Homo sapiens: one gene and its partners. The protein of the gene in region 1 purifies or fractionates together with the protein of each later gene. This does not show direct contact. Each region holds a gene or a part of one and is shown in the gene's direction. Other genes may lie near its edges. The genes, in order: SQSTM1, HDAC6, CD44 and RIGI.

Evidence for each region.
Region 2: the proteins of SQSTM1 (region 1) and HDAC6 purify together in Homo sapiens (affinity purification with western blotting; 6 studies listed by BioGRID). This does not show direct contact.
Region 3: the proteins of SQSTM1 (region 1) and CD44 purify together in Homo sapiens (affinity purification with mass spectrometry; 4 studies listed by BioGRID and IntAct, with this or other methods). This does not show direct contact.
Region 4: the proteins of SQSTM1 (region 1) and RIGI purify together in Homo sapiens (affinity purification with western blotting; 5 studies listed by BioGRID). This does not show direct contact.

The regions. Positions count from the first base shown.
Region 1 is NC_000005.10:179,816,735-179,823,921, forward strand, and holds the start of SQSTM1 (sequestosome-1), read left to right. Parts: upstream 1-4,170; 5' UTR 4,171-4,202; coding exon 4,203-4,407; intron 4,408-6,223; coding exon 6,224-6,319; intron 6,320-7,123; coding exon 7,124-7,187. UniProt on the Homo sapiens protein: Molecular adapter required for selective macroautophagy (aggrephagy) by acting as a bridge between polyubiquitinated proteins and autophagosomes.
Region 2 is NC_000023.11:48,805,057-48,812,080, forward strand, and holds part of HDAC6 (protein deacetylase HDAC6), read left to right. Parts: intron 1-381; coding exon 382-466; intron 467-574; coding exon 575-615; coding exon of another isoform or gene 616-619; exon of another isoform or gene 620-1,311; coding exon 1,312-1,408; exon of another isoform or gene 1,409-1,552; coding exon 1,553-1,650; exon of another isoform or gene 1,651-1,904; intron 1,905-2,976; coding exon 2,977-3,081; intron 3,082-3,201; coding exon 3,202-3,270; intron 3,271-7,024.
Region 3 is NC_000011.10:35,198,154-35,205,177, forward strand, and holds part of CD44 (CD44 antigen isoform 1 precursor), read left to right. Parts: coding exon 1-93; intron 94-2,492; coding exon of another isoform or gene 2,493-2,764; exon of another isoform or gene 2,765-2,928; coding exon 2,929-3,042; exon of another isoform or gene 3,043-3,514; coding exon of another isoform or gene 3,515-3,517; coding exon 3,518-3,634; exon of another isoform or gene 3,635-4,391; intron 4,392-6,358; coding exon 6,359-6,487; intron 6,488-7,024. UniProt on the Homo sapiens protein: Cell-surface receptor that plays a role in cell-cell interactions, cell adhesion and migration, helping them to sense and respond to changes in the tissue microenvironment.
Region 4 is NC_000009.12:32,523,192-32,530,759, reverse strand, and holds the start of RIGI (antiviral innate immune response receptor RIG-I), read left to right. Parts: upstream 1-4,563; 5' UTR 4,564-4,593; coding exon 4,594-4,699; intron 4,700-7,568.

The DNA.
Region 1 (7,187 bases):
CCCTTCCGGGGTCACTTTGCCGTCTTCCTCCAGCCCCCCTCCCTACTCCTTGTCGCCGCCCCCCCGTCTTTTCAGGACCTTGCGCACTCAGGCTGGCCCTATGCTTTGGGGTACCCCAGCAGTGCCCCCGGGTCTCCGGCCACCCGGTGACGGAGGGAGGGAGAGGCTGGCGAGGGGGCGGCGCCTTAGGTCCCAGCGCGACCCGCCTCTCAGCCCCTCCCGCCGGCTACAGCCGCGCGGGACGGGGCAGGGACCTCGAGAACACCGGGGACTTGCGGGCCGGTGGCCCCGGGCAGGCCACTTCTGACGCGGGTGCGAGGCCTTCCGCGGGCGTGCACGGTTGGGCCGGAGCCGCGCCGGGGGCCGGGACACGCCTGGGGTCAGCGCTGGCGTCGCCGCTCGGGTGGGGTGGGCCGGGTTCGGGTCCAGTCTCCTCCCCACGGGCGGCCCGCGCCCCGTCTTCCAGTGACCCCCACATCCCTTGCGCCCCGAGCTGGAACTTCGGCAGGTTCTGCCCCGGGCCGCGCGCGCTTTCTGGGGACCAGGGCTGTGGTTCCTGCTCCGCGTCGTGCCTTTAGACACCGCCGGGCGTTCGTCCTCCATCCCTCCCCCCTTTTCCCCACTCCGCGGTTGACGAGGGCCGCCCCCAAGTGGCCATGTCCCCCGGCATGGACGACCCCTCAGTGCCCCTGAGGGCCCAGGGTCTCGCCCCCGTCCCGAGGCAGGCCATGTTTGAATTTATTTGGAGAAATTCGCCCAGCCCAGGGGACCTCTTTCTGCAGCTCTGGCCTTCCAGTAGGAGAGGGTCCCTGGGGCTCTCAGGCCTGACAACTTGGCATCACTGAATTCTCTAACCATGTCTGTCCATGACTTGAACTCCTTTTCTTTTAGAAAGATCTTTGCAAACCCCTTGTGGGCGTGCCCCTCCCATGGCCCCCGTGCCTCTTGCCTGGGCTTTGGGCTTGTCTGAAAGGGCTAAAAGGGGGTGATGCCTGGCCGGGCGGGTGGCTCACGCCTGCAGTCCCAGCACTTTGGGAGGCCGAGGTGGGCGGATCACCTGAAGTCAGGAGTTCAAGACCATCCTGGCCAACATAGTGAAACCCATCTCTACTAAAAATACAAAAATTAGCAAGGCTTGGTGGCAGGCACCTGTAGTCCCAGCTACTTGGGAGGCTGAGGCAGGAGCAGGAGAATTGCTTGAACCTGGGAGGCAGAGGTTGCAGTGAGCTGAGATCGTGCCACTGCACTTCAGCCTGGGTGACAGAGAGAGACTGTCTCAAAAAAAAAAAAAAAAAAAAAAAAAAAAGTGATGTCCAGTGCCTGGGGATTTTTCCTAGGGAGTGGTCAAGGAAGGCCCCGCTGAGGAGGAGACATTTAGGGTGGGAAGTTGCCATGTAGGGCAGGAGTGGAAAGGGTTTTGGACCAGAGGGAGAGCCAGGGAAAAGTCACCAGGTAGAATGAGCTGGCATGATTAGGAAGATGGCAAGGGAGGGCTGTGGCCCTCCCATGTGAGTGGAAGGGAGTGGCTGCAGCGCAGAAGGCCTGGAGGCCCCCGCACAGACCAGGACCTCTGTAGAGGAACTCATCCCCTGTGTCCCCTGTGATTGTCAATCTCCCTAAAGATGGCCCAGAGCAGTGCGGCCTGAATCCCTCAGTGGCCTTGTCTCTGGCTGCCCCAGCACCCACGCGGACACTTGACTCCACGCCCCAAAGAAAAGAAGCGAACCTGGGAACACCACTGCCAAGGCATAGGATTATTTGGGAGGGGGGAAGGGGGAACTGAGGAGGTGGTTACAACATGCTGGGCAGCAACAGACAGAACCAGACCACCCCTGTGGCTGCCCCGGCTGGTCTCCTGGGACCACTGGGCGCTTGGCTCAGGCCTCTCCTGCCCTCCCCACTCTTCCACCTCAGCCCCCCTGCAGTCTCTGTCCTGCCCTGACCCCCCAGCTTACAGCCCCAAAAGCAGCTAAACAACTCGCACACCCACGGGGCATCGCCTGGGAGGGCAGCCCAAATCCTTCCACTTCAGCCCCATTTGAAAGATGAGGAAATGAGAGGCTGGTCCATAGTGGGTCTCGCGGCTCAGGTGCCGAGCCTTCCCTGGGCATGCACGCCGGGCCCTGGAGGGTGGGAAGGGGCCAGTGGACGCGGGGAGCCTGCGGGGTGGGACTGCATCGGGAAAGGGGAAGGAGTCAGAGGCGAGAAGGGGGAGAGTGTCTGTCTGGCTCCAGCCGCTGCACGCTCTTCCTGCTCAGGGGACTCACGGTGACCCCGGAGCCACTCCCCAGCCCAGCCTCCAGGTAAGAGGTCACTGAGATGGGTGGCAGCAGGGGCCGGGGATCCCCCTATTACGACAGCGGTCATGGGACGCTGACTCACTGCCGGCCAGACCACCTGACCTCCGCGGCGGGAGGAGAGGGCCCTGCCAGGGGGTTCCCGCCGCGCCTTGTTTACCTCCGGGAGGCCTCGGCCTCGCGTGGGGGCAGGGCGGCCGCTGGGGCCGCAAGGCGTGCGGGGAAGGGCCAGAGCCGGGTGTCCACCCCAGCTTCCCAAAGACTCCCTCTTCTGTGCTTCCTTCTCCCCTCCCCGCCCCCCCCCCAGTCTCTTCACATGCCCCTAGCCCCCGCGGAAACTTCCCGCGATCCCAAACGGGCCAAATGGCGAGAAAGCAAAGGAGCTCCTTCTTGGGGGTGAGTGGGGCGCCTTGAGCGCTTCCTCAAAGCTATGTTCCCAGAGCCACAGGCCTTCCTTGTGTCCCTCACCCTGCTCAGACCGGGCCATAGCCGGGGGCTGGGGCAGGAAAGCCGGCCCTCGGCGGGGGCCACGTGGCTCTCAGGCGCCTGGGCTGCTGAGTCACGCTTGGCCAGCACCTGTCTGTAGGCCACAGCCTCTGCCAGCACGCCCCTCTGTGTCCCCTGCCCCTGTCTGCAAGGCAGTGGCTCCAGCAGGCCCTGGGGCATTTTCCACTCTCCACCGCCGGATGCAGGGAGAGGCCTGAACCCTCTCCACAGGGCTGCTCTGGGCAGGGTGGAAGCCTTGCCCACTTCGGAGCCCTCCGGGAAGGATCATTCACACCTGTGGACCAGCCCCTGCTGTGCGCACACCCACACATCACCTTCGCACCTGACTGGCCCCATCCAGCCACTCTTGCCTCCCTCTGGGTTTCCTCCCCTGGGAGGTTTCTCCAGCTCCTGCAAGCCCTGGGCTGAAATGGCATGAGTTGGACCCAGCAGGTTCTGACCTCCTACTCACAGGACCTTGCCTGGGAGGCTCCAGAGGGTGACCACTCGTCCTGCCCCTCTCCTTGCCCCAGTTCTGGCGGACAGGTTACTCTGGTGGCATAAAGCAGTGTTTCTTCCTTCCTAGCTGAGGAGGCTGTTGGCTGACCCCCTTGGCTGCCCACAAGGCCAACGGGCCTGAGCCCCCACAGGGCCATGGGCATTACCTGCTGAATTGAGGAGCCCATAAGGAGTCACTTGGACCACAGTGAACACTTGGCGACCACTGACACTCAGGAGACCTTAGCTGGTCCTCCAGCACCTCTCAACTCCACTCCTACTAAACTGGGAACTTCTCTGGTGCTCAGGCCAGAGTCGGGGTCCGTCACCGAGTATGCTATGCGCTGCCCATCACCGAGGATGCCATGCGCTGTAAGAGGGCTGCCACCGCGGCAGGCTGACCATGGCAGGGTCGGAACAGCAACCTGAGAGCCAGCTTGTTCTGGCCAGCAGTGCCCACTGGGCGACCTAGCAGCCTCCTGATATGGGGGCTGTGTCCCCCTCTCCCTGCACTGGGTACCCCCAACTGAGGATATTGCTGAGTCATGGCCAGGCCCAAGCCTGGGAGGGGCGAGGGGCTGGACCCCCGCCAGTACCCTGATCCCAGGTGCAGAGGCTGGAGCCCAGGCCTGTATGAGTGCCAGGGCCGGTTTCCTGGGGTCCTTGGTGCACCGGGGCAATGAAGAGAGGGGTCAGCAATGAGGGGGCCGGGAGACCTGGAGCGAGGGGTAGCGGGGAAGGGGAGAGTAGTGAAGGGGCCTCTGCAGGGCGGCTCTCGCGCCGCGACGACGGTGGCGGGGGCGGGGAGGGCGCGAGAGACTCCGCCCCTCTCGAGGCGGGGCGGGGCCTCCGCGTTCGCTACAAAAGCCGCGCGGCGGCTGCGACCGGGACGGCCCGTTTTCCGCCAGCTCGCCGCTCGCTATGGCGTCGCTCACCGTGAAGGCCTACCTTCTGGGCAAGGAGGACGCGGCGCGCGAGATTCGCCGCTTCAGCTTCTGCTGCAGCCCCGAGCCTGAGGCGGAAGCCGAGGCTGCGGCGGGTCCGGGACCCTGCGAGCGGCTGCTGAGCCGGGTGGCCGCCCTGTTCCCCGCGCTGCGGCCTGGCGGCTTCCAGGCGCACTACCGCGGTGAGCGGGCCGGGGAGCGGCGGGGGCGGTGACGCAGGCCGGACACGGCCTCCTGCCGCGGGGTGGCTGCCCCCTCCCTTCTCGGCGACGCCTGGCGGGCCGTGAGGGGGTCTGCGCTGGCTGCTCCCTGGATGGCGGTGGCCTGCATGGGTCCCCAGTTCGGCCATGGGAGCCGGCCTGGTGACTGGAGTGGTGACCAAGGCCGGGACCCGCTGCTCAGCGTCGGCCCCCTGGGGCGGTGGAGCCCTGCCGGCCGGGGGCTCGAGCCTGGGGGCGTCAGACGCCCCGCTCCACCCCCCGCGCTGTTGGGGATTTTGGCAAGGACGCGCCGGGGCGAACGCTCTGGCTCTCCGCGGGCACTGGGTGGTCAGGCGGGCACTCGGGTTACACTGACACCTTGCTGCGCCAGGTGGTGGGTTCAGATAATGCCCTGGAGGAGCCGGGCGAGCGCCGGCGAGGGGAGGGAGTGACGCGGGTAAACAAGCGCGGGGGTGCGGGGGACTCGCGAGCGCCGCGACAGCGCCTGGGAGAAGGGCACGGATCGCCGGCGGAACGCTCCGAGCCAGGTCGAGTACAGATGTTTTCCCATTGGCAAGTGGACGAGAACGTTCTTCAGAAGTGTTGGTGTTGGCACAGAAGCCCTGTTTCCTGCTGCGCTGGTGTGACCAGTGGCTGCTGGGGGTGGGGTTAGGGAGGTGGTTGTGGCCAGGAGGGCGGGAGGTGGCCAAGGCCGGCCCCTGGGAGGGTGCAGTGCTAGGACCTCCCTCTGGAGCGCTGCCAGCATACCAGGCCCTCTCCTATTCTTAAAAAAAAAAAAATTGTGATGTTATTGAGCTGTAACTGAAATAAGGGTTCACCCATTTAGTGTACAAGTCAGTGGTTTTCACTATTTTCATAGGTTTGTGGACCATATTCAGTGTGAGAGCTTTTCATCACCTTATAAACGCCATACATACCTTTTATCACCCTCTTATCCACATGCCCCCAGCAACCTCCTTTCTGTATCTATTCATCTTGCAATCCTGGACATTTCATGTAAATAGAATCAGACAATGTAGTCTTGCAAGTGGTTTCTTTCACTTAGTGTAATGTGTTCAGTGTTGTGGCACATATCAGAACTAGTTTTTTTTGGAGGAATAATATTCTGTTGTGTGGACAGGCCATGTTTTGTTTACCTGTTCATTAGTTGACAGACATTTGGGTTGTTTGCATCTTTGGGTGCCTCACCTGTGCCCTCGGTGGATGGCGTGGTTTGGTCTGCACAGCTGTGCTTTAAAGCCATTTCAGCTCATATGTATCTGTCACAAATGGAGACTACATACAAATACGTGTCTTTCAGCTTTGTTAGGGAAGGAAGCAGGCAGATGCCCTTGTCTTCTCCTTTACTCCCAAGCCACTAGAAGTCTAAGGCCTTTGTGGGGCTGGGCCCCTCAGGAGCAGGTCACAGGCAGGGATCTCCCACAGTTGAAGACGGACATGGGCCTGGTCGGATGGGGAATGAGGTGGCACGTTTCTGAAAAGGCAGCTGGCCCAAGGCTAAATAAGTGCAGCAGCCAAAGCTGCTGCCCCTGTGCACAGGCCCTCCGCCCCCTGCATGTGGCTGTGGTCCAGGGCCCAGGTCGGAGCACTCACCTTCCAGGAGGTGCCAGAGCAAGGGGGTAGTCTTGCCTCTCACTCCTGCCCTCTGTGGCTCAAGTAGGTGTGTTTGTTTATAGCCCTGTGAGTGTCCCTTTCATACTTGCCTCAGCCCATTCCAGCAGCTTATGTCCAGCTGAGAACCCCTGGGTGCTCACGTGCTGTCTTTTAAACAATCTAGATGAGGACGGGGACTTGGTTGCCTTTTCCAGTGACGAGGAATTGACAATGGCCATGTCCTACGTGAAGGATGACATCTTCCGAATCTACATTAAAGGTAAGGGGCTGCTCTGGGGGCTGCCTGAAGCCAGCTCAGCTTGTACTCAGTTCCCTGCTGAGTAAAAAACAGGGCTCGATGTTCCACCAATGAAGGGGTCAGCAATTTGAGGGCTGTTTAAGACAGAGACATAGGCCAGGTGTGGCTCACGCCTGTAATTCCAGCACTTTGGGAGGCCGAGGCGGGCAGGTCACCTGAGGTCAGGAGTTTAAGAACAGCCTGGCCAACATGGTGAAACCTTGTCGCTACTAAAAATACAAAAATTAGCCGGGTGTGGTGGTACATGCTTCTAGTCCCAGCTACTCAGGAGGCTGAGACGAGAATCACTTAAACCTGGAGAGCGGAGGTTGCCATGAGCCGAAATCACATGACTGTACTCCAGCCTAGGCGACAAAAAAAAAAAAAAAAAAAAAAAAAAAAAAAAAAAGACATTTTAAGTGCTGTGCCTGACCTGAGAAAGAGGAGTCCATGTTCACTCTAGGGATGGGGTCTGGTGCCGTGGTGCTTGGGTTAGGGATGGGGTCTGGTGCCGTGGCGCTTGGGTGAAGGGCAAGGCCAAAGCTGTGCAGACAGGGCTCCTTGCTGCTGCTCTGCTGCCTGGGCCAAACAGACACAGGGACTGGGAACCTCCTAGCAGGTTCTTGGTGGCTCTGCTGCCCTCACCTAAGTGGCTGAATTTTGTGTGGATTCCATGCTGGAGAGCAGGGCCGGGGGCCTTGCTGGCAGTGACAGCCCCACAGTGACGACAGAGGGGGAGGACTTTAGGGGGTCCCACCCTAGCGGCTCTCTTTACCCTTCCTGTAGAGAAAAAAGAGTGCCGGCGGGACCACCGCCCACCGTGTGCTCAGGAGGCGCCCCGCAACATGGT
Region 2 (7,024 bases), on another chromosome or scaffold:
GGAGGACAGATTGTTTAGGGCCTTCTGGGCATGGGTAATACTTTGGCTTTTACTCAGAATGGGATGGGAGCCTCGAAGGGACATGAACTGATTAGGGTTTTAACCAGTGTCTAGCTGCTATGCACAGAAAGGACCGTTGAGGTGGCGAGGGTCGAAGCAGGGAGGCCGAGGAGATGCCGCCACAGCCCAGGCGGGAGGGTATGGTAATAGCAGTGGCAGTGGTGAGGAGAGGGTCACACACCAGAGCTGATGGGAGGCAGGACTGACACCACAGTTTTGGGGTAAGCAGCTGTGGAAGGGTGGATGGGGAGATGTGGAGAGAACAGATGTGGAGCTCCCCAGTGTCCTCATGCATCTGTGACTGTGACTCCATCTCCCCAGCTTCCCGGAAGGCCCTGAGCGGCTCCATGCCATCAAGGAGCAACTGATCCAGGAGGGCCTCCTAGATCGCTGCGTGTCCTTTCAGGTAAGGCCCCCAAGCCAACACTCTGGGTGAAGGGCAGGGAGCTGACCTGACCTGGGTGCAGCCCATGCCTTAACCCTTTACCCCACTTTATTCCTCATCTCTCCCCAGGCCCGGTTTGCTGAAAAGGAAGAGCTGATGTTGGTTCACAGGTGAAGGCTTGGGAGCCTTGTAGGGATGGGGAGGAGCCTGCCCTGGACAAACCAGGGCAAGCTAAACGCTTTGGGAAGCAATGTCATGGTCTCTGCAGCCAGCCTTGGGCAAGTCGCTGAGCCTTTCTGAATCTGTGTCATCGCCTGTAACAAGGGGACCAGTAAACATAAGTTCCTCAGGAGAGTTTGATGTGTGTCAGGTGCTTAGAACAGGGCCTGATATATAATCAGCCCATGATGAGCTATTACTGTTATCATGATCTGATTGTGTGAATAGATGGTGGATGTGTGGACAGAGTGATCGGGGTTCCCCCAGGGGCTTCCAGATTTAGAGGCCTAGTGCTATGTGGCTTGAGGAAAGCTAGCTTCCAGAGCAGGTATCTGAGCTGAACTTTAAGAGGAGAAAAAGAGTGAGTCAGATGAAGAGGGTGACTGAGGGAAGGGAAGAACAGACAGCTGAACCAGTGTGGCCAAAGGCCTGAAAGTAGGATTTGGTGTGGCTACTGCAGGGGAGCAGAGAACATTACCTGAACTGAGGCGGGCTAGGGAAGAAACAGAATGTGTCTTATATCCTGGCTATTCCTTCAGGTTGACAGTTGGGGGAGCCAAGCCCTAATTTGACCAGGGGGTTGGTGTATGGACAGCTCAGTTGGGGAAGAGACAGGGCCCTGAATCTCATCTCCCATCTGTGTCTAGCCTAGAATATATTGATCTGATGGAAACAACCCAGTACATGAATGAGGGAGAACTCCGTGTCCTAGCAGACACCTACGACTCAGTTTATCTGCATCCGGTATGGATGAGAACTCTGCGGGCAGGGAATGGTGGCAATCTTGGGGTCCCCATCCCTATGCCCACCCCACCCTGGGGGAAGCAGCTGAGTGGATAGGGCTGTTCTCTCCCTTACTCCCTTTCTGGCTCCCCACTGTCTCTCCAGAACTCATACTCCTGTGCCTGCCTGGCCTCAGGCTCTGTCCTCAGGCTGGTGGATGCGGTCCTGGGGGCTGAGATCCGGAATGGCATGGCCATCATTAGGTAGGACTCTACAGCATTTGACTTTTTACATTGTTTTAAAGTCCTTCCTTCAAGTGTAAAATGTATTGATATGGGTAATATATTCATGTGATTCAAGAATCCAAAGGTAAAAAAGAGAATATAATTAAAAATCTGTCTCCCATCCTTGTCACCCAGACACCTGCCTCCTCTCATGGGAGGTAGTCATTGGAACCACTGACTCATGTGTCCTCCCACAAAGTCTTATTCAAGAAATAAATACCATATTTCATTGATTCTAAGGTGTACATTTTTTCATATTTGTAACATCTTGAAATCCAGATGCATCTTACAAACAGTGACATCTCAGAATTCCATTGGCAGTATTTTCTGCTTCGTTTTTGGCATGTAAAATCATGGTACATCTTATCATCATTGGCATCCCAGAACTGATGAAATGCAAAAGCTTTCTCCTCCCTCCCCTGTTTTTAACCACAAATGGTAGTAACATGACATACTCCCTTCGTACCATCTTTTCACTTACACATCTTGGAAACCTTTCTCTAACAGTATGTATCTTGGAGCCCGGTAGAACACCATTGTGTAAATGCACTCTATGTTAATCAGTCCCCGACTAATGGGCATTTTGGTTCTCCCCAGTCATTTGCTGTTTTAAAAAAATGCTACAGCAAATATGCTAGTACCTTTATAAAAATAAAATTTTATTTTACACTAACATAAAATAAAAATGTTACTTCACCCTTTTTAAAACACAGGTTGTGGGCTAAGTTCCTGCAGCAGAATGACTGGGTATGAGAATGAATGCGTTGATCATTTTATTTTTATTTTTATTTATTTATTTATTTTGAGACGGAGTCTCGCTCTGTCACCAGGCTGGAGTGCAGTGATGCAATCTTGGCTCACTGCAACCTCTGCCTCCCAGGTTCAAGTGATTCTCCTGCCTCAGCCTCCCAAGTAGCTGGGACTACAGTCGCCCGCCACCACACCCAGCTAATTTTTTGTATTTTTAGTAGAGACGGGGTTTCACCGTGTTGGCCAGGATGGTCTTGATCTCTTGACCTCGTGGTCCACCCACCTCGGCCTCCCAAAGTGCTGGGATTACAGGCCTGAGCCACCGCACCCGGCCTTTATCATTTTAGTGAACATTTTCAAATCTCCTTTGGAGACAGAGGGGTAGATTGGCAGGGGGTGAGAGTTTGAGGGCCTCCATTACTCAGTTCCCGGCAGATTTTTAGGCATCAGCATTAAAGGAATTGGTGGTCCAGGATTAGAGAGCAGGGGACAGTCTGTCTCTGCAGAGGAGGACCCCTCACATACTCCAAGCTGTTATTTCCTTGTCTTGCCCAGGCCTCCTGGACATCACGCCCAGCACAGTCTTATGGATGGCTATTGCATGTTCAACCACGTGGCTGTGGCAGCCCGCTATGCTCAACAGAAACACCGCATCCGGAGGTCAGCAACAGAGGGCAGATGTGATGGGGGTGGCATGGGGTGGGGTGTCCTGGTCTGGGCTCTTCCCCCAGATTCACCTTGATCTCCTTGCACAGAGTCCCCTCTCTCTGCTGCTCCTAGGGTCCTTATCGTAGATTGGGATGTGCACCACGGTCAAGGAACACAGTTCACCTTCGACCAGGACCCCAGGTATACCCCGACTCCCACCTAGGTGCTAGACTCCCAGCCACCTCCCACCCTTACAGGCCCAGCCAGAAGGGGTCCAGAAGGAGGAAAAGGCATTCACATTCATGGGGCCTATCCTGGGATCAGGATCTGTGCTACTTTTGTGTGTCTGCCATCTCTCCTAATTTCACTCTGAGGCAGGGACTGTTGGGTTCCCTATTTTACAGATAGGGGGACTGAGGCTTATACGTTAAGAGGTCACACAGAGAAGAACTGGGAGAGACGGGATTTGACCCACAAATATTTGAAGATCTTATTCACTGATTAACCGTTGGGTTAGAGTGAACCTCAAATTACTGCTTTATTTTTTCTGATTAGGATAATGCTTCAAAGTGTTTGTTTATCCTTTCAGTAGATAGTAAAAAACAAATATAAATAAATAAATAACAAACTATTTGTTTAAAGAAATTAAATAATACAGAAGTGTCTGAAGCAGTGAGTCTCCTCTAATTTCCATTACCTCAAAAATAAGTGTTGACAGTTTAGGTTATATCCTTACAGATTTTCTCTATAGATGTCTGAATTTTTATTATTATTGTTATAATTATTAATAACACACTGCCTAATGGAATAATTCTCCACATGTTCTTCGACAACTTGCTTTATTCATTTAACAGCATATCTGGGACATTTCTCCATGTTAGTACCTCTTAAAGTATCTCGTTCTTTGTAGTATTCAATTTTATGACTGTACCTCTGGTTATTTAACCCCAGGACTTTTAAGATGCCTGCCAGTTTTTGCTATTACAGGCACTTCTACTGTGAATAGTCTAGTAAATATGTAATTCTGCACTTCTCTGAGTCTATCTGTAGGATGAATTTCTAACAGTGGGTTGCTTGGGCCAGAGAGTCAGCATACTTTAAAGTCTGGTATACACTGCCAGACTTCCCTCCAGGAGGGGACCAGCTTACCCTTCCTGCAGAAAGTGATTGAGCAAGTCCTTGTCAGTAGGAGACATTACTAAGTACATGTCGAGTATCCCTTATATGAAGTGCTTGGAACCAGAAGTATTTCACATTTCAGATTTTTTCAGATTTTGAAATATTTATATTATACTTAGTGGTTGAGCATCCTTAATCTGAAAACCCAAAATCCGAAATACCCCAATGAGCATTTCCTTTGAGCATCATGTTGGCCTTCAAAAAGTTTAGGATTTTAGGGCCGGGTGAAGTAGCTCACTCCTGTAATCCCAGTACTTTGGGAGGCCGAGGCGGATCACCTGAGGTCAGGAGTTCAAGATCAGCTTGGCCAACATGGTGAAACCCCGTCTCTACAAAAATACAGAAAAATTAGCCAGGCGTGGTGGCACACACCTGTATTTCCAGCTACTCAGGAGGCTGAGGCAGGAGAATCACTTGAACCCAGGAGGCAGAGGTTGCAGTGAGCTGAGATCGCACCACTGCACTCCAGCCTGGGTGATAGACTGAGACCCCATCTAAAAAAAAAAAAAAAGTTTAGGATTTTACAGCATTTCAGATTTCAGATTTCTAGATTAGGGATGCTCAACCTGTAGTAGTTTTATCTAGCCTTCTTCCTAGCTGACTACAGAGAATCCACTTATCCAAGATCTGAAGAATCCAATTTAGGTTGGTTGTTCTCTAGACATTGCTTTATTATTTTGCAGCATTCAGTGTTCCTGACAGGTGTCTGCTTTTCATTCCTTTCCAAGTAATCTACTTTCCTCTCTGCAAGGTTATCTTGGTGTTCTTTTTTTTTTTTTTTTAAATTATTAGACAGGGTATCACTCTGTCACCCAGGCTGGAGTATAGTAGCATGATCATAGCCCACTGTAACCTCAAACTCCTGGGCTCAAGCAATCCTCCTGCCTCAGCCTCCCAAGTAGCTAGGACTGCAGGCATGTGCCACCACACCCAGCTAATTTTTTAAATTATTTGTAGAGACAGGGTCTCACTATATTGCCCAGACTGGTCTCGAACTCCTGACCTCAAGTGTCCTCCCACTGCAGCCTCTCAAAGCACTGAGATTACAGGCATGAGCCACTGTACCTAGCCTTGATGTTCTAAACTTTTACCCTGGCCTTTTCACTCTGTTTAATAGTAGGTAGACATTTTACATCTGAAGATTCATGCTTTTCTTAAACTCTTGGAAATTATTTTCTATTAGATCTTTGATAATTTCTTCTTTGTTTTCTCTGTTCTCTTTCTAGGACTTCTGTTAGTCAGATGTTAGACTTCCTGGGTTGATCCTCTATGTCTCTCTCTTTTTTATTATTTATTTATTTATTTATTTATTTATTTTTTTTGAGACAAGGTCTTGCTCTGTTGCCCAGACTGGAGTACAGTGGCACAAATACGACTCACTGCAGCCTCGACCTCCCGGGCTCAAGCAATCCTCATGCCTCAGCCTCCTGAGTAGCTGGGACCACAGGTGCACACCAGCATACCCAGCTAATTTTTTAATCTTTTGTAGAGATGGGGTCTCACCATGTTGCCCAGGCTTCTTATTTTTTATCTTATGTTTTCTGTCTCTTTTTTCTTTTGCTGTGACCTGGGAGATTTTGTCAACTTTATCTTCAAGCCCTTCTGTTGAATTATGTATTTAGATATCCTGTTAAACTCCAAAAGCTCTTTCTTCCTCTCTGTTTCTATGTCCTCTCATACCTGATCTTGTTTTTATAGAGTATGGATTAGAAGTGCCGGCTGGGTGCGGTGGCTCATGCCTGTAATCCCAGCACTTTGGGAGGCCGAGGTGAGTGGATCACTTGAGGCCAGGAGTTCGAGACCAGTCTGGCCAACATGGTGAAACCCCATCTCTACTAAAAATACAAAAATTACCCAGACGTGATGGTGCGCACCTGTAATCCCAGCTACTCAGGAGGCTGAGGCAGGAGAATCGCTTGAACCCAGGAGGCGGAGGTTGCAGTGAGACAAGATCATGCCACTGCACTCCAGCCTGGGCGATAGAGGGAGACCCTGTCTCAAAAAAGGAAGTGCCTTAAGTTTCTTCTGTTGTCTGAGTTATGTCTCTTTATTCTGAGGCTGGTTGAATTATTTTTTTCTTGGTCCTTCTCTTTTATGCTGATGGTTTTCCTCAAATGTCTAGCAATCCTTATTTGGCTATTTATACCCAAGAATGAAGGCCCATTGTAGGGGGCTGTCAGAGGACTACTCTGCTGCAGTGTTTGTAGGTCTGTTTTCCTGAAAGGCATTTCCCCAGAATGGGGACAGGGAATGTCCACTGACAGGTTGCAACTTTAGCGAGTGTGGGCAAGGACCCGGGCATTAGATGGGATCCTGCCAGATGTCAGAACAAAGGAGGCCTCTTCTTTGGGGTAACATCTCTTTTTTCCCTCAGCCTTTCCAAAGTGTATCTGTTGTACTTATCTTTTCCAGTGTAGCTTTGGGCTTTGTTGGTCATCTCTACTGTTTTATTATGGTGGGTTTTTAATACTTCATTAATTTTTCTGGTTTTATCTTTATTAATGTTTTCCTCCGACGTTCTTTATTTTGTTCATTTCTGGCTTCTGGAATTTAATGCTTCAACATTTATCAACTCATTGGCCGATCTCATTTCATCTATACCTGTACCCACTGCCCTCTTCCTGTTTTCCTTCAAAGCTAATCCCAGATACCATATAATTTCTCCTGTAAATATTTCAGAATGCATCTCTAAAACATAAGTACACTTTTTTAGAAAAGCATTACCTTAGTATCAATACCTGAAAATTAACAATAATTATTTTTTTAATCTGCCAAG
Region 3 (7,024 bases), on another chromosome or scaffold:
AGCCAAATGAAGAAAATGAAGATGAAAGAGACAGACACCTCAGTTTTTCTGGATCAGGCATTGATGATGATGAAGATTTTATCTCCAGCACCAGTAAGAATAATCAATTACAGTACAGCCATTTATGCAAGGCTTATTGATTAATCTGAGTGATACCAAATTGTATCTCTCTTGAGAAGTAGTTAATGTGAAAAATGGGTGAACCTATGATCATACCTTAGTTATATCTTGATGAGATTATGGAAGAAGAAATAGAATGTTTTGAGAAGTGGGGAAAATATCTCACAAAATTTCTCTTGTCTCATGTTCTTCCTGTTTTATTTATCTATGGGATCTACTGCTACAGATTGTCTTTGAATGATCAGGCTTTATCAGAGAATGACATTAAAACAGTACAAAAAATGTACATTGTGTACTTACTGTGCTAGGTGCTGGAAACACGAAGATGAAAAGAGCCAGAGCCTTTGCTTTTCAGAAGCTCATGGTCTGTTGGAGCAATAGACTTGAAGAATGTGATGAGGAGGGTATTAATTAAAAGTTGTAGGCCAGGCGTGGTGGCTCACACCTGTAATCCCAGCACCCTGGGAGGCCGAGGCGGGCAGATGACGAGGTCAGGAGATCGAGACCATCCTGGCTAACACAGTGAAACCCCATCTCTACTAAAAAATACAAAAAATTAACCAGGCGTAGTGGCGGGTGCCTGTAGTCCTAGCTATTCGGGAGGCTGAGGCAGGAGAATGGTGTGAACCCAGGAGGAGATCGCGCCACTGCACTCCAGCACTCTAACCTGGGTGACAGAGCCAGACTCCATCTCAAAAAAAAAAAAAAAAAGTTGTGGAAGTTCCTAAATTGAAGGCCCTAAAGGCTTAAATGATGGGAGCTAGAACTCAAGAATTATCTTAGTTAATCAAAGCCCAGCTGAGGTCAAAGGAACAAATCCAGAGTTTTAACAAATGAGCTGGACACCAATATAGCAGAAAGACCTTGAAGGGAAGGGCAAATGTCAGGTTAGCTTTAGCAAGACATTGCCACTTATTAAAAGCAAATAATGAAACCACTATTGGTACATAATAGTATCCAAATTTTTGACAATTATAAAACTTTTTGAGAACAAAGAGATGGAAATTGAGCTTTAAAGATATCCTTAAAAAGTTAAAAACATGCAAAGGTTGGTCTAATATTCTGCCAGATTACTGAGTTTTCCACACATACCTGTAATGACTTAAGATTTTGCTGAACAGAGCTGAGAATCCTGAACCTGACTCCATCACAGTTCTGCTTTTCCTTAGAAAAAAGGCTTTTGGGGTGCTGTGTGAGCTCTCCCAATTCACTGAAGTTCTATCCATTCCATTAAAATCTGAGAATTTCATCCTCAAATGGACAGAGAAGAAAGGGTCCAGAAAAAAAAATAGCTTAGGCCTTGAAGGCATCTGAGTATATAACATTGATATGACAAATACTCAAAAGGAACTAGAATTTTCTATCTAAACTTTTAAGTGATTTTTTTTTTAGACCCGACACCCCTCCAGAGCTTAATCTATGGAATAAGAAAATTCCTTTTGGTAACTTCAGAACAAAAACCAAATAATCAAAAACACTGGAGTTTTACATTATACTGTCTCCTGTGTTCAGCATGTGGCCCAGCTTTGCAGATGGGCCCATCAGTAAATACGTGGTCTTGATACTGAAGAAATTAAATTCCCTTGGGTGGTAACCCAAACAGATCTACCTGTAAATGAATTGTATGGTCAGGCTTCAGGGAAAAATTTCCCATGGTGTTGTTTTTTTTTTTTTTTTTTTTTTTTTTTAATTTTTTAAATCTCTATGGCATATTTTTCCAATTTCTGCTTTTCTTTTTTTTTCTTTTCTGCTTAGCACCTATGGACATAATTCAACATGATGCCCTCTTTCTTCTGGAGGGGTGTGATAACTGCTTGATAATAAGCACTTTTTCAGGCCTATTGAGAATGTGGTTAATGATTCTAAACTTGATTTTTCATAACTTGTAAAATAGAGCTGACAGTATTATAGTTCTGAAAACAGTTTTGCGTTATTTGGGTATCAAAATAAAGTTTGAAACAATTAGGATGGATTTGCAAATAACCTTTCACAAAACATGTTGACTCAGATTTTGTCATGATCCTTCTGTTAGGTGCATCTCTTATTCCAGCCCTAACAGATTGGGTGACAATATCAGGGTGCTGGTGGATGTACGCCTCTTTCTTTCCAGTGTGCTGCTATGATGGTGGCTGGTTACCTGTGGTGTCTTATTTTCTTTCACTGGCTATGAATGGCTTGCTCATGACATATTTTGTATTTGATGAGAATACCATAGTGTTTGATAAATATTCAGAAATGTATCGCTAAAACATATGGCTATTCTAGGTATTCTTTTTCAGAATCATCTATAGGAAAGCTCTAGCTGCTCAGGCATTCCTTTCCCCACTGAAATTACTAACAACATAAAGTGATTATCATGGTATAACTTTCAGTTATCTGCCTCTTCACCCGGAGGATCTACAAACAGCACACAGTGACTAAGTCCCTGGGCTTTCAAGTGCAGAGGGATACTACAGACTGCATGGATGGGCAAAATGGCGCCTTTGGTTATCCTCGGTGGAGGGCTGGTGTTTTCAAAGCTGTCCTTCCTACTGCTGCAGCTTCTTTGACTGTTTTATCTGGAAGATCTCATGTTCTGAACCCCAAGGTATTCTATGACAGAATGCAAAGGACACTGAGATGCTTACCAATATGGCTGAATTAAGCTGAAGTCACCCTCCGCTTTCCCTCCATTTCCATGCAGCCATCTATACAACCTGGTATAGATGATTCATTGCATAGCCTACAGAAGCAAGACTATGTGCGGGACAAGTGGCGAAGGCTCAAGAAATAACATTTTTCTAATTGCTTCAATCATCGTTATCACAGTTTCAACCACACCACGGGCTTTTGACCACACAAAACAGAACCAGGACTGGACCCAGTGGAACCCAAGCCATTCAAATCCGGAAGTGCTACTTCAGACAACCACAAGGATGACTGGTAATGGGTTCTGCATATTTAATGAAAGATTTTTTTCCCCTCAAAGCCCATGATGCTGCAAAGGTCAATCATCGAGGCACAGTGGGAAATTTAGTTAATATCTGATCAAGAAATTCTTAGTGGACTTTTATGAGGATACTTAATTCCATTTAGGAGTCATTTATCAATTATACCATGTGGGCACAGGATTTTTTATGTTGCTTCATGATAAAAATGAATATGTTTGAATGGTTTGTGGTTCTGCCTTTGACAAACTGATCATAGTGGAATAATAAGGGAACATGAAGAAATTCCAAGCCCATTGATTTTCTCTTGAGACCAATTAGGTAAAGTCACTCAAAATTTTTGAGAGTGGATGCTCAGAGGTAACACTTTGGCATAGAATTGTTAAATAGCATGCACTTTAATGGAAGAATAGAATCATTAAAGATTGGTTGATAACAAGTCACAGTGTATTTAACCATCATCACAGCAGATGTAGACAGAAATGGCACCACTGCTTATGAAGGAAACTGGAACCCAGAAGCACACCCTCCCCTCATTCACCATGAGCATCATGAGGAAGAAGAGACCCCACATTCTACAAGCACAAGTAAGCAAGATGGCGGTCGGCAGTTCTGGGTTAGATGAATTAGTAAAGACATTCCAGCAATAGGGAAGATTTTGTTTAGAAATTGGCCGCATCTTCTATTTCCACTCGGTAATTTCTTTTATTCTTAGAGCCTGAAAAGCTGCTAAACCCGCACACAAATTTTAAAAATTGGAAGGAAAATGATAACTCATCAGGTTGCCCAAAGGCCAAAATGTTTTAAGAAGTAGATCTAGATACAATTTTTGTGTTAAAGGTTCCTAGAGGTTCCATTTGGGTAACTTGTGTGTGTTCATTGAAATGTGTGGCAAAGAGTGTGTTCTTTTGGTGCTTAGTAGTGGAATCTGGAAAGAAAGTTTGTCAAGTGAATTGATCTTTGGAATCCTTATTTTCTATGAAGATCTTTGATGAATACAGTGTCTTTTTTGCATTCTGTCCCTGACTGTTCTATAGAAAGACATCCCTTGTACTCTTTAGAGCAAAGTTGGTAGCTCTTATGGTCTTCATTTGAATTCTACCACTGCTTCTTTTTCTGTTTTTAAGCCCATGGTAACTTGGGGAAGGCTTTGATGCTCTTACTGTTATTTCTACTATTATGAAAACTCAGGTTTTCCAAAACAATCTCAAGTTGCGGCAGTGGACTGTGAGAATAGGGGGCCCCCTCACTCCCCAAACATAAGAAGTATGTGCTTTTCTTCTTTTATCTATCCCGCTGAGATATGTCTATCTTATTTGGAATAAAAGTATTTATTTTGGAAAACAGCTTTTTAGCATTTTTAAAATGATGACCCAACTGTCATTCTCACAGCCCTAGATACACCTAATGGGGAAATGTGAGCCACTTAAAAGCCACTTAAAAACCAAAGGGCTTTGGGAATCTATGGCTTGAGGGGTGCCTTCAGATAACAAAAGAAAAGTTTCAGGTATCAGTTAGGATAGAGGTTAGACATTGTACTGAATATATCCAGCAGATCTTACATCCCATTACAAACCCCAGTAGGTGTGTTGTATACATACGGCTTAGGGGTTAAGTTAACAAAGAAGTCTGATAAGAAAAGGAAATACAGAGGAAGCATAAATCTCTTTGGAATAGGATTTTGTTCCACTCCCTTAGAGCCCTAACAGTATACCTTAGAAATTATTTTAGACAGTTTGTACTTAAAGACCAGAAAGCTACTTTAGAGACTTGGAAATAATGAGCCTATTGTCAAAAGGTGGTGCTTGCGGGGCATTAGGACTAGAGGGTTGGTGAAAATTCAGACAGAATGTAACTTGACAAAGAGAAGACAGCAACAACTGTAACAATTATCTTATGAATATTTGCGAAACTCAAAGGGATCTGATTGGTGACCTCTGGGCTTTATCAAATTAACATCACAACTTCTAGAAGAAAGTCAACCTTCATCTTTTACAATAGAAATCATATGTTTTGCTAACCCATTCCTATTTAGGCTGAAAACAATTAAGAGTTATGGGTACTTAAAAAAATCATTATGTTTATAAAATTAGTGATAGAAGGAGCATAGTGTTCTATACAGTCACACACATACACTTCCTTATTTCTTTTATTTAAACTTTGAGTAACATAGCAGTCTATGTTTGGGTCAGTTTTCCCTTTTTTGTAATTACATTCAGTGGTTTTTGTAACTTCATTATTTATTGGGAATTAGTGATTTAGTCAGTGGGAGTTTTGTAAAACTTAAGATTTTGGCTTTTTTCCCCCTCCTCCTGGATAACCAGTTAACCCAATAATGGCTTGGCCGATGGAAGGGTAAAATGAGGACAGTTATATTTTTTAAATGTCATTACTGTCACCAAATCACACATATCATTTTCTAAGATAAGGAAATACAACCATTTTTACAAGTTGCAAAAAAGTACTCTGGCTTGGCAAGTTTATAGACTCTCATTTTCTTGATAAACTAAAAAAAAAAAAGAAATTGCTACAAGCTGCTATAGACAAAAATGTTGGTGTCTTTCTGACTTTTCCTGAAGACACCTTGATGGAATTATATTCTCTTGATTTTGTCCTTTTTAAAATGATGGTTGAAATTTTAAGCCTGTCACACACTATTATTTATATAATGCCTCAAACTGGCTTGGATAGTTTTCGTCAACTGAATTAATTTTGTTAAAAAGTGATTTTAGCAATTTTAGGTGCCATGTGGACATCACCAAATACTGTGTTAGTGGAATAGCATCCAAGCCATCCCACCATCTTTCCTGCTGGGCAAATCCACTGCTGGTGCATTTCCAGTGTGTGCGATTATGGGTTACATGACCACCATTTGAGAAGGTCTCCTAATGTGCTGATCTTGTTATTAGCTGTTATACAGTGTTTTCCTTTCGTCAAAATGACTGGAGCAAAGAGGTTATTCTTTGAATGGTTTTCTCAGACAGGGTATGTGAAGCCATTCACTACAGTAAAATAAAAATAATAATAACTCATAGAACTATGAGAATTCATCAGCTATGGTCTGCTTAGTCCTATGATTTTGAACAAATCAAAACTTCTTTGGACCACAATTTTCCTAGCTGAAAAATTAAACATTTGGATCATTTGATTTCTCATATCCCTTTTAGAATATCAGTGGCCTGTTTCCTTGGTGCCTTTCTTTTCTACCTTCCCTCCCCATGTGTATCTGCCCTTAAAGTAGAAAGATATGTTGACAGCTATTGGTGAGGAAAATAGACAATTATGTCTCCCAACTGATATTCTTCTCACAGTCCAGGCAACTCCTAGTAGTACAACGGAAGAAACAGCTACCCAGAAGGAACAGTGGTTTGGCAACAGATGGCATGAGGGATATCGCCAAACACCCAAAGAAGACTCCCATTCGACAACAGGGACAGCTGGTAATGGATGGTTTAACAAGTAAATTTGGATGGAAACTTCCTTTTGGGTTAAACGGTAGACATTGAGGACATTGAACAAAAGGACACTGGAGGAATTGTCACGAGATGTTAGGTTACTTAATAAATTATGCTGCAGTTCACACAGAGCCAAACCTTAAAGGCTCATAACAAGTCACCTGAACAGGAATGGATACAAGCCAGTTATGAATAAGAACAGGAAACACAGAGAAAATGCCCTTGAACATGTCTCTTTCACATCGAGTTTTGGGCATCATCTAGTGAGATTGTAGCAGAGGCCCTGATAAAATATCGCTGTCTGTTGTATAAAGGAATCTACTCTATAATGTGGGTCCAGACTTTACAATATGATTCTGCAAAGTCTGGCTGTGAGAAAGCATTTTGTCAGAACTCCAGTGTTTGAAGAAATAGAGCCAGACATTATGTGAAAAGTGACACCTGTCTGATGTCATTTGGCCTTTTGGCCATGCCTGTTCAGTAATTTGTTTTTGAGTATAAAAAAGGTATCTTCTCTATTCT
Region 4 (7,568 bases), on another chromosome or scaffold:
TGTAGTATGTATTTTATAACATATAGAAGTACAGTTTCAGACAATGATAGCAAAAAGGATGGGGTGGAATTACATGGTTGTGATGATCTTATATTTTACCTAATGTGGTACAATATTAGTTCTAAATAGATTAAGTTGAGGATACATATTATAATCCTTAGTGCAACCACTAAATACACACACACACACGTATAAAATAATATGTAGAGTGTATACAAATATATATGTGTATGTGTGTATGGAGAGAGACCTATAGCTAAAAGAATACAAAGAGTTATAGCTAAAAGAGGTTAAAGTTATATTTGATTAACGTATATCCAAGGAGTCCATTTTACTGGATGACACAGCAAAACCCTGTCTCTTAAAAAAATAAAATTATTGAATTAAAAGTTTGTTCTTTGAAAAGATGCAATTGGTAAATCCCTGGCAAGACTGATTTTTTAAAAAGGCAAAAAAGATAATAAGGTCTATCACGAACACCATATGCCAATACATTTAACAATTTAGAGGAAATGATCAAATTCCTTGTGTTAAAATATAAACTTTTCCACATTAAAATTTCAAGCTGGCCAGGCGTGGTGGCTCACACCTGTAATCCCATCACTTTGGGAGGCCAAGGTGGGTGGATTGCCTGAGCTCAGGAGTTCGAGACCACCCAGGCAACATGGTGAAACCCAGTCTCTACTAAAAAAATACAAAAAAATTAACTGGGTGTGATGGCACATGCCTCTAGTCCCAGCTACTTGGGGGCCGAGGCAGGAGAATCTCTTGAGCCCTAGAGGTGAAGGCTGCAGTGAGCCAAGATTGTGCCACTGCACTCCAGCTTGGGCTACAGAGTGAGACTCTGTCTCAAAAAAAAAAAAAAAAAAAAAAAAAAAAAAAAAAAAAATTAAGGTGTTCCAGCAGTGATTCATAAATTAAGCAGCTACAAACCAGAAATGGTCTGGGGCTCTGTTAGAGGGGGTTGAAGGGACACAGAGCAAAGAAATTGTTTCATTGGTTAAAGTTTGAGTGTTTGCCTTATTTGGACTATCCAAGTGAGAAATTTATGACAATATAACCAATGTCCCAGTTAGCCAACTGTGATTGGCTAAACTAAGTTTCATTTTCCTCATGAGGGTGTTACAGCTACATCAGTCTAATGGCCTACCAATTATTTTAACACTTGAGAAGCACAATTTATCAAAACTGATTAAAGATTAAAAGTCAGAATAGCTTTATATCTAATTGAGAAATTGAATTCATTATAAAGAATCTTCAAACAAGGAAAATGTCAAGCCCAAATGGTTTTATTAGTGAATTCTGTTAAACATTTAAGGGGAAAATGATACCAATCTGAAACAAACTCTTGCTTTATGAGACTAGCATAACTCTGATATCAAAACCTGATAAACACATTACAAGAAAATAAAATTATTGACTAATATTCCTCATGAACACAGACACAAAAGTATTTATGAAAATACTCATTTGGTCATGATATAGCATCCTTTGTATCTAAAACCAAATGAGATTTATCCCAGGAATGGTAGGTTGGGTGAACGTTCAAAAATTGATCAGTGAAATTTGGTATGTTAACAGAATATATGATCACCTCAATAAATGCAGGAAAAAACATTTGAAAAATTCAACACCCATGCATTATAAAAACTCAGCAAACTAGGAATAAAAGAGAACTTCATCAATCTGATAAAAGGTATCTAAGAAAAATTTACAGCTACCATATTATTTAAAGTGATTATTATTACATTGATGATTTCCCCACTGAAATTAGCAATAAAGTAATGGTGTCAACTGTCACCACTTTTATTCTATTTTCTATAGGAGGCTCTAGGAGGTACCATAATAAAGAAAGGAGGCAAAAAGCATGAAGACCGGAAAGAAAGAAGTAAAACTGGCTGGGCATGGTGGCTCATGTCTGTAATCCCAGCACTTTGAGAGGCCGAGATGGGCGATCGCTTGAGTTCAGGAGTTTGAGACCAGCCTGGGCATCAGGGCGAAACCCCATCTCTACAAAAAAATACAAAAATTAGCTGGGTGTAGTGGTGTGCACCTGTGGTCCTAGCTACTCAGGAGGCTGCAGTGGAAGGATCCTTGAGCCTGGGAGGTGGAGGCTGCAGCAGCCTGGTTGACAAAAGTGAGACCCTGTCTCAAAAAGAAAAACTATAATGAAAGGAAATAAAAGGCATAAAGATTGGAAAGGAAGAAGTTAAAGTATGTATTCACAAATGACATCATTATTTATCTAGAAAACTTAGAGGAATTTACAGAACAATTACTAGAACAAATAAGTGAAGTTAGCAATGTTGCATGTTTTAAGGTCAAAAAACAAAAATCACTTGTATTTCTTTTTTTGTGTGTGTGTGTGAGATGGAGTCTCACTCTGTCGCCCAGGCTGGAGTGCAGTGGTGCAATCTCGGCTCACCACACCCTCCGCTTCCTGGGTTCAAGCGATTCTCCTGCCTCAGCCTCCCGAGTAGATGGGATTACAGGCGCCCACCACCACGCCCGGCTATTTTTTGTATTTTTAGTAGAGATGAGGTTTCACCATGTTGGCCAGGCTGGTCTCGAACTCCTGACCTCAGGTGATCCACCCACCTCAGCCTCCCAAAGTGCTGGGATTACAGGTGTGAGCCACCACACCCAGCCAATCATTTGTATTTCTATACCGTAGCAACAGACAATTTGAAAATGAAATCTTAAAAACAATTCCATTGACAGTAGCATCAAATAACATAAAATAGTTCAGAATAGCCAGGTGTGATGGCCCGTGCCTGTAGTCCCAGCTACTCTGGATGGCTGAGGTAGGAGGATTGCTTGAGTCCAGGTGGATCCCTTGAGCCCAAGAGTTCAAGGCTGTAGCACACTATAATTGTGCCTGTGAATAGCCACTGCACTCCAGCTTGGGCAACATAGTGAGACTCCGTCTGTAAAATAAAATGAAACAAAACTAAAATACTGCTGAGAGAAATTATAGACCTAAGTAAATGAAAAGGCATACCATGCTTATGGATTAGAAGACTCAATATTGTTAAGATGTCACTTCTCCCCAAGTTTATCTGTAGGTTCAATGCAATCTTGATCAAAATCCCCATAAACTTTTTTTGGGGGAAGGAAGGGGTAATTGACAAGTTGATTCTTATTTCATATGGAAATGCACAGGGATTCAAGGTTGCAGTGACCCCTGTTTGCACCACTGCACTCCAGCCTGGGAGACAGAGTGAGACCTTGTCTCAAAAAAGAAATTAAAAAAAAAAAAAAAAAAGGAATGCAAAGAATCTCAAATAGCTAATATCTTCACAGTGAAAAACAAATTTGGAGAACTTAGTAGTACTTGATTTTGAGACTTAGTTGAAATCTAAAGTAACCTAGAGACAATGGTATTGTCAAAGTAGTAGGAAGTAGAATATAACAAGAGTCAGAAATAGACACATATACATTCAATGGACTTGGTTTTTTTACAAAGGTCCCAAGGCTATCCAATGCCAAAAGGAAAAGTTTTCAACAAACGGTGCTGAAACAATTAGAAATATGGAAAAAGTGAACCTGGACCCCCCATCTCACGCCACAACAAAATTATTTTGAGATAGTAATAGACCCAGAAGTAAAGGCTAAAAATATAAATCTAAAAGGAAACAATATTTTCATGACCTTGGGGTAGGCAAAGATTTATTAAAGAGGACACAAAAAACAACAAACAGAAGAAAAACCTGAAAATTGCATCAATATAAGTGTCTGCTCCTCAAAAGACACCTTTAAGAAAATGAAATGGTAAGCCACAGACTGGAAGAAGATATTTCGAATACATATATTTAACAATTTTGTATCCTGAATAAATAACTCCTGTAAATCCATAAACCAAAAAACTCCAAAGTCAGGCAAAAGATTGGAGCAGATGCTTCACAAAAGATATATGAATGACCCAGTAAGCACATGCAAATGTGCCCACCATTAATTATATGGGAAATTAAAATTAAAACCACAATAATATACCATTTCACACCGACCAAGATGGAAGTTAAAATTAAAAAAAAAAAAGAAAGGCTGACCAATGTGTCTATCTACTGGAGCTCTCCTACTGCGGGTGGGAATGTAAACTGGATGTAATCAGTCATTTTGGACAACAGGTGGCGGTTTCCTATAAAGCTAAACATAGACTTACCCTGGCACCCAGCCGACGTGGGAGAACTGGGTACACAGGTGTACACTTTACAAAACTCATCGAATTGCACACTCAGATTGTGTGCATTTTACTGTGTCTAAACGTTAGCGCTATAAAAGCAAAACAAAATATAAGATCATAAAAATAAAAGCAATTCCTAGGGGTCCTCTCCGTTCCCGGGCTTCCTCGGTGCGGAGGGAAACGAAACTAGCCCGAGGCAAAACAGCCTCCGCGAACCCCGCCCGCCGCTAGTTGCACTTTCGATTTTCCCTTTAGTTATTAAAGTTCCTATGCAGCTCCGCCTCGCGTCCGGCCTCATTTCCTCGGAAAATCCCTGCTTTCCCCGCTCGCCACGCCCTCCTCCTACCCGGCTTTAAAGCTAGTGAGGCACAGCCTGCGGGGAACGTAGCTAGCTGCAAGCAGAGGCCGGCATGACCACCGAGCAGCGACGCAGCCTGCAAGCCTTCCAGGATTATATCCGGAAGACCCTGGACCCTACCTACATCCTGAGCTACATGGCCCCCTGGTTTAGGGAGGGTGAGTGTCTCCAGCGGCGCCTTCTCGGCGGAAAACAATTGAGGACTTGTTTTTCTCTTGCTTCGTTCCCTTCTTTTAATCAATGCAGAGAGCCTGCCAGACTCCCCAGGTTTGTGGTAAGATCTCCGCAGCATTTTAGGCTAGAGGTTGCCAGAGTTTGAGGAGCCCTCGGAGGCCTAGGTGGGGAAACTGAGTTCCAGCGAGGTGAAGTGACTTGCTTAAGGGTGCTCATCTATTTAGGTTCAAAGCTGGGGAAGAAATTTTGTTTCATTTATTTTCACTAATATTAAAGTCTACTGTGTGCTTGGCTGGGTACTGACAGAGATTGAGAAATAAGATAAGGGCTCTTCCTTAGTATACATTACAGTCCAAGGGATGGGACACAAAGGGCAGATAATTACAGTACTGAGCACAAAGTGCGGTCTGAGCTTAAAGGAAGTTGATGCTTACTCTGCCGAATCTTATTTGCACGCCTAAAGAAGTGGAAGCTGGAGAGGAGCCGGACTTTTCCAGACCGAATAGCTTTAGGCTTTAATACAGGTGTTTCCATCTAACTTCGGAGACAGGTGATCCTGGGTAATGACCATTTTGTAAATTTGTATCGAATTACTTTGTGCTGGAGATGAGCAGAGGCTTCTGGGAAAGAGGTGAAAGGAGGTGGTACTTAAAAGATATCGATGAGGCCGGGCGTGGTCCCTCACGCTGTAATCCCAGCTGTAGAGCACCCGATGCTGTTGCTGTTCGGGGTGCCACTATGTAACCCGCACGGACCTAGGGGACTGAACAAAGAGGGGCGAACGCGGGAATAAAAGACAAGAGACAAAAGAGTATATCTGGAAGAAGGGGTCAGGGGGCACCTTGCCTCTAGTGGACAAGGGCCCTGAGCTTTACACAGCCCTTCTTATTAGGCAAAAGAGATAGCGAGAAGGGGAGGTGCTTGTTGGCTGGCTGCTTGATTCACAGCAGGCTTGCAAGACTGCATTCTTTGAACAATAGGTGCTAGATTTCTCAATAAATAATTTCAAGGAGCCTGGCGCCAGGGAGTGAGGCGCTCAGCAAACCATTTGGTGGCAAGGCAGTGTGAGTTTGCCCAGGTGCTGCATTCATGATAAACAGTTTGCTGTTTGATCATATAGCCTCCAGCGGAATGCTGAGTTGGTCACATCCCAAGGGCCTTCGGCTCCCTGCAGCCAGCACTTTGGGAGGCCTAGGCGGGTGGATCACAAGGTCAGGAGTTCGAGACCAGCTTGGCCAATATGGTGAAACCCCGTCTCTACCGAAAAATACAAAATTAGCCAGGCGTAGTGGTGCACTCCTGTAGTCCCAGCTACTCAGGAGGCTGAGGAATGAAAATCGCTTGAACCAGGGAGGCAGAGGTTATGGTGAGATCGCACCACTGCACTCAGCCTGGGTGACATCGTGAGACTCTTGTCTCCAAAAAAAAAAAAAAAAAAAAAAAAAAAACCGAAAAACAAAAAAAAGTCGATGAGAGGGGGCCTGGGAATCCTAAAAGTCTCCAAGTGCCAGTCTTTCCTGATGTTATTGCAGTTTTTGGAAATGGCGTTAAGACCGGCAACTAACTTGAATGCTAATTGCTCTACAAAACTAAAAGAAAGGTTGTGGAATGGCATTCTAGTGACCAGTGTAGCTTGGCACCTGAAGAAGTACTTGGAAGAAACACTAACAACTGGTGTGAATTCCATTTTTTCATGCACTCATATATTGATTTGATACACTTTGATGGAATAAAATAAGCAACTCGTGTCAGTATTATGTTAGCATTGGAGGTAATTTACTCAGCACCTATTACCTAATAGTGTCATTGAAAGTTGAGGAAGCAATGATGAGCACAGTAGAAACTGTCCCTGCCCTAATAGTGATTAGTGTGTCTATGTGAATGCAGGTAACAAAATAGTAAATAATAAAGTGCAGCAGTGCTTTGATGGAAAAAAGCTGGGATGTCTACTAGAGTCCAAAGGGCACAGCCAAAGCTTCCCAGATATTTGGCATTTGAACTGAGGTCTAAAGAAAGAGGAAAAATTAGCTGGAAGGAGACAATAAATTGCAGTTAGAGGGCTCCTTATGTGCAAAGGTCCAAGGTGAAAGAGAAACTAGAGTGTTCCAGGTATCCAGAAAATATTAGTATGGTGGCATTGTGGAGAGAGAGGCAGGAGTTCAGAGAGATGAAACTTGACAGGCAAGCAGAAGTGGGATATGAACAGTTTTGGACTTTATCCACTGAAATGTGATAAGGAGAGGGGACCAAAATAGAATTTGCATTGTAGAAAAACGACTTTGACTTCAGTTTGAGGAATGGCTTGAATAGGTACAAGACAGGGAGAGAGAGAATGGCAGATGCAATGATGCCAGGACAGCAGAGTGGAAAAACTGGAAGCAAGGATACCAGTTAGGAAAATAGGAATCCGGAGGAATGGGGAGAAATGGATGGATTCAAGACACATTTGGAAAGTATAATCAATAGGTCTCTTGGGGAGTTGTGGTGAGGAGGTAAGGGTGAGGACAGGGTGGAAATGACTTCCAGGTCTCTGGCTTTGGTCCTTGGGTGAATAAATGGTAGTTTCTGAGATAGGAAATGTGGGAAGAGGGACAGGTTTGCAGGAGGAGGAGAAAAATTCGGATTTAGGTATGCTGGGTTTGTATGCCTTGGATACATCCATGAAGAGATGTTCATCAGATTGTTGGCTGCACAGGTGTGGAGTTCAGGAAAAGGGTCCACAGTTGGGGAGACATTAATGTGGAGATCCTTGCTGAAACAATGAGAGTGGGTGCAATTGTTACTGAAACACCAGGGATTCAGCCTAGGTTCTTTTGCTGGCTGCACATAAAGCCAATCACTGAGACAACAAGT